2 separate regions of the Homo sapiens genome follow, and region 1 is linked to region 2. A link means that fine-mapping ties the variant in region 2 to the expression of a gene that starts in the linked region. Tissue or cell type: whole blood. Region 2 holds a variant in brackets; the other region holds the start of a gene. All regions are shown on one strand. Distances are between the middles of the regions.

Region 1 (2,500 bases), 44 kb after region 2:
GGACAGCTGGTGTCCCCGCGACCCGCACGGCTGCACCGCTTCTGGGAGGGGCTGCCCGCCCAGGTGAGGGTGGTGCAGGCCGCCTATGCTCGGCACCGAGACGGCCGAATCCTCCTCTTTAGCGGTGAGTGGGGCCGGCGGCGGGGCGCGCTGGGGCCGGCGCGGGGAGCCCACCCCTGACCTCCCGGCCTCCACCCTGCAGGGCCCCAGTTCTGGGTGTTCCAGGACCGGCAGCTGGAGGGCGGGGCGCGGCCGCTCACGGAGCTGGGGCTGCCCCCGGGAGAGGAGGTGGACGCCGTGTTCTCGTGGCCACAGAACGGGAAGACCTACCTGGTCCGCGGCCGGCAGTACTGGCGCTACGACGAGGCGGCGGCGCGCCCGGACCCCGGCTACCCTCGCGACCTGAGCCTCTGGGAAGGCGCGCCCCCCTCCCCTGACGATGTCACCGTCAGCAACGCAGGTGGGGAGCGCGGTGACCTGCGGGTTACTGGGCCTGGGGGTGGGGAGAGGGATGTGGGGAATGGGGACATGGAGGCCACCCTGCGGGGATGGGGGTCCTTGGGCATCAGGGAGCGGCGGGGCGGGGAGGGACCGGGACTCAAGCTCTGCTCCTCCAGGTGACACCTACTTCTTCAAGGGCGCCCACTACTGGCGCTTCCCCAAGAACAGCATCAAGACCGAGCCGGACGCCCCCCAGCCCATGGGGCCCAACTGGCTGGACTGCCCCGCCCCGAGCTCTGGTCCCCGCGCCCCCAGGCCCCCCAAAGCGACCCCCGTGTCCGAAACCTGCGATTGTCAGTGCGAGCTCAACCAGGCCGCAGGACGTTGGCCTGCTCCCATCCCGCTGCTCCTCTTGCCCCTGCTGGTGGGGGGTGTAGCCTCCCGCTGATGGGGGGAGCCATCCAGACCGAACAGCGCCCTCCACGGCCGAGTCCCCCGCCGCTGGACCTGGTCGGGGGTTGTGAGGCGCTGCGGAGGCCCCTTGTCTGTTCCCACGGACGGGGGCTCGGGCGCGGACTAAGCAGGGGGGATCTCCCGCGCAGGGGCGGCGGCGGCGGGGACCGGTCGCCTGGCGCTGGGCTCAGTCTCCTCAGGGTCTGAGACCCCGGCGCTGCCACCGGAACCCGCCTTCAGGGGCGCACGCGCGCTGGGACCATGCGTCGGTCGTCGCCCCCGTCGTTCCCTCCCGGCTGCCGCCAGGGGGCGGTCGGACCCCGCCTCCCGAGCCCGGGGAGGGGCGGGGAGGACAAGGGGCGGGCCCGCGGCCTCACCCGGAGGGACGGCAGCCCCGGTCGCGCGCTGGCCCCGCAGGACCTTCCTTTTCCAGGAAGAGCCAGCTTTTCTCGGAGCGCAGTCCTGGGACTCTCCGCAGCCCCGCCCCGCCTGGCCACTGCGTCTGGCATTCCTGGGTCGTTAGAGGACAGGCCTGACTGCGAAGCTGTGCCTTGCCCCTCTCCCACCCGCAGTTTCTCACCCCGTTCTGCTCCCACAAGGCCCCCCTACAGTCACTGCCACACTGGTGGGGACCTGGGACCCAGACCCGGAACCAGCCCAGATATCACCCCTGAGGACCCATGCGCCACGTCCTGGGTGGTGGAATCAGTGGCTGGAGGGACGACCCTTGCTCTCCAGGCTGTTAACCTTTTCCGTTGCTCCCCCGCCACCCACCTCCTCCTCCCCAGGCCACCCAACTTGGGCACCTCCCTGGGCCCAGAACTGCCTTCCATTCAATGGGGAACCCTTCTATCCCCAAGAACCCCTTCCCTGCTTGCACCCTGGAGAGAACAGCTTGACTCCCATCAACTCAACGCTGGTGGAAAGACAGGGACCGAACCCTGGCTCAGGCCTGGTCATTGCCTCCTCAGCACTCCCTCCTGGGAGGCCTTAGCTCTAGAGTGAGGGGTGGGTGGAACCTGGGGGCACCTCGTTCACCCTGTCCCCACTCCCCACAGTTTTAGGATCTAAATGATTGCCTCTGGAACTATTCTTCTAGACTATCCCACATCAGAATCACTGGGAAATTTAAGTTTGCAGATCCCACACTCACCCTGAATCCTCACTCAGGGTGGGGTCAGGAATCTGCATTTTAACTAGTCGCGGGGATTGTGGGGGGCAGTAGCTGGCTGTTTCGTGGCATTTCTGTGGCTCTGCAGTGTTCCTCCACCCCAGGACCAATATGTTCAGGCCACACCGATGGCCTGAACCCCATGGGTAGAGTCACTTAGGGGCCACTTCCTAAGTTGCTGTCCAGCCTCAGTGACCCCCTAGTGCTTCCTGGAGCTGAGGCTGTGGGCGGCTGTCCCAGCAACCATGCGAGGGGTTGCCCCAGTTGCTCATACAAACAGATCAGCATGAGGACAGAAGGCAGGAGACTTTGGTCAGTTACCTGGGAATTCTGGGCTGCCAGGAAACGATTTGGGCCTCTGTCAGTTTCTTTTCCATGTATGAGGAGGGGGAAATTTGTATATTAGAAACTTATTCATCCCACTCAGGACAATAA
Region 2 (2,750 bases):
TCCTTCTCTTCTGAGCCCTCCCCTGCCCCAGGAACCCTGGCCTCACCAAAACAGCAGCAGCTCGTTGGCTCCAAAACCAGGGAGCAGACCATGCCCTCCCAACCCTGGAGTTGTCAGGGAGGGCCTGCCCATCACCTCCCTCTCCCCAACATCCCCACCCTCGAGTTGGAAATAAAGAGCATTTGTAACTGGGCTCCCTCTAATCTGTGCGCCGCCGCTGGGGCTGGGCAGGCACAGCCAGGTGGCCTCCCTTGGTGGCTGTCAGGCCAAGGTCTGGCTCTAGGTTCTGCCTGGTGGGTATGCTCACTCAAGCCACGGGGAGAGGGGATCGTGACTCACTTATGCCCATCTCTTCCCCTAGCCAGGGTGGGCACTCAGTAACCCGCTGCAACACCAAATGCACTAACAAAACATGCTTTATTTGATAAAAATGTGAGTGTAAAGGGGGTGAGACGAGGGGGGCAGGGCAGAAGGGTGCAGTGTTGGAGGTGGGGGCGGGGGTCTACATAGCTGGGACCTGGCCCTGGGGGGTGGACGTCTTATCAGGACGGAGGAAACAGAGGTCAGAAGTTCCGGAGGTGGGCAGTCCTTTGTTAACAGATCATTTGTTTTTCCAGGGGTGAAGAGAGGAGCTCCAGAGACCTGAGTAGGATGGGGGGCAGCTGTCCAGTGACATCTAGGGAAGCCCAGCCCCCAGCAGCAGCAGGAACTCTTGGGGACAGTCTGTCTTGTTGCAAAGCCAGCACAGCAAGCAGCCTCCGCATTAGTTCCATAGCTTGACTGGCTTCTAAGATGGGCATGTCAAGATCCAGAATCTCAAAGCATCCCCTCTTTGGCTCCATCATCCAAGGGTGAGAAACAGCAGAGCCTAAGTGAGAGTCTGAGTCAACACCTTGGCTCAGTTTTCAAATGAATTTTAAATATCCTCAGTCAAAAGAAAAATAGCAGGAGGCAGAAACAAAAGGTACGAACCCATCCCAAAGCTGTTGGGCACTGCCACTTCTGGATGGCTCTAGCGCCAGCGGAGCCCCCATTCCCCTCCACGTCAGACGTAATTCTTGGTAGGGTACTCAGAGGGCCCCCGAGAGATGGCAGGGGCAGATGTTGAGTAGCGGGCCATGTAATGGCTGGGGCCCTGGGACCCCCCCGAGGGGCAAGTGCAGCACAGCAACCCCCCACCCAGCAACAAAAGGCCTGAGGCCGCCCAGCCCAAGTAGAGGGAGGCCCCCAGCTCCCGCTTTTGGGCCTCAGCCACCAGGGGGTTATAGAAGTCCCGGATGATGGCATGCGCCGTCCAGCACACGGGGATTAGCGTCAGGACCCCTGAGATGACAAAGACAATCCCAGAGGTGAGCACCAGGCGGGCCTTGGAATCCTTCTCCTCCACACAGGTGGTACACTTGGCCCCAGCAAGGTAGACCAGCAAGCCGAACAGGGCCACAAGGAGGGCGATGACACAGAGGGCACGTGCAGCCTGCAGGTCCTGTGGCAGCGCCAGCAGTGAGTCGTACACCTTGCACTGCATCTGGCCGGTGCTCTGCACCACGCAGGACATCCACAGGCCCTCCCACACCACCTGGGCCACCACGATGCTGTTGCCGATGAAAGCGGTCACCTTCCACATGGGCAGGGCACAGGAGACCAGGCCATTCACCCAGCCCAGCAG[T/C]GTCAGGACGACTCCCAGGATCTGCATTCCGGCAGAGGCCATGGCGAGGTTGAAGGAGCTGCACTGTGTTTGGGACAGAAGCACAACAAGGTGAGGCCTGGCAGGCCCAGACCTCAGGCCACATGTGGACAGGACTCTAGGGGCATGCACCCTGGAAAGTGGTCATCACATCCTGGAACTCAGTCAAGACATGCTCCCTGAGCCTCACTTCTCGTGGGCAAAATGGACACTTAATGCTTTAGCATTTATTATTCTTTCTAGTTATGTGACAGGCACTGGCTGATGACAGTGACTGTGCAAGCAGCCCTGCCCTGGCTATCCTGAATGCAAATGAAAGATAACAGGATGAAACCTATACAATGACAGTCCAAGGCCAGAGCCAGTGATCAGGCTGCAAGGCGGCAAAAAGCAGGATGACAGGACGGTGCGATTTCCAAGCAGTTTCCGTGTAGAATGGTTCAATTCTAGCCCTGAGTTTAAGGCTCAAAACTTGTCCATTTGTTTTGTTTGTTTGTTTGAGACGAGGAGTCTCGCTCTGTGGCCCAGGCTAGAGTGCAGTGGTGCCATCTCCACTCACTGCAACCTCTGCCTCCCAGGTTCAAGCGATTCTCCTGCCTCAGCCTCCCAAGTAGCTGGGATTACAGGTGCACACCACCACGCCCGGCTAATTTTTTTTTTTTTTTTTTAAGACGGAGTCTCGCTCTGTCGCCCAGCCTGGAGTGCAGTGGCGGGATCTCGGCTCACTGCAAGTTCTGCCTCCCCGGTTCACGCCATTCTCCTGCCTCAGCCTCCCGAGTAGCTGGGACTACAGGCGCTCACCACCACGCCCGGCTAATTTTTTTGTATTTTTAGTAGAGACGGGGTTTCACTGTGTTAGCCAGGATGGTCTCGATCTCCTGACTTCGTGATCCTCCCGCCTCAGCCTCCCAGAGTGCTGGGATTACAGGCATGAGCCACCACACCTGGTCTTAATTTTTGTATTTTTAGTAGAAACAGGGTTTCATCAAGTTGGCCAGGCGGGTCTCGAACTCCTGACCTCAGGTGATCTGCCCGCCTCAAGCCTCCCAAAGTGCTGGGATTACAG

The links. PIP is the estimated chance that this variant, and not a neighbour inherited with it, causes the effect.
Region 1: it holds the start of MMP25-AS1, and the variant in region 2 is fine-mapped to the expression of MMP25-AS1 in whole blood (TOPMed, PIP above 0.99).

Annotation. Positions count from the first base shown.
Region 1 is chr16:3,058,210-3,060,709 of GRCh38, forward strand. MMP25-AS1 (MMP25 antisense RNA 1) reads right to left here and starts at 1,161. Exons shown (of 5, transcript NR_123723.1): 1 at 787-1,161; 2 at 331-493. MMP25 (matrix metallopeptidase 25) reads left to right here. Exons shown (of 10, transcript NM_022468.5): 8 at 1-124; 9 at 203-460; 10 at 618-2,500. The coding sequence ends at 889. It overlaps LOC124900372 (sialidase-like), which reads right to left and starts at 1,161. Exons shown (of 3, transcript XM_047435000.1): 1 at 787-1,161. RefSeq lists silencers at 31-80, 111-240, 381-430, 891-1,360 and an enhancer at 1,399-2,304.
Region 2 is chr16:3,014,314-3,017,063 of GRCh38, forward strand. CLDN9 (claudin 9) reads left to right here. Exons shown (of 1, transcript NM_020982.4): 1 at 1-192. It overlaps CLDN6 (claudin 6), which reads right to left. Exons shown (of 2, transcript NM_021195.5): 2 at 399-1,729. The coding sequence starts at 1,708. The coding sequence ends at 1,046. Among named protein-coding and RNA genes, the nearest start is that of CLDN6, 2.5 kb to the right of the region's middle. RefSeq lists a silencer at 1-37 and enhancers at 894-1,458, 2,678-2,750. The variant T/C (reference allele first, on the strand shown) is at 1,667.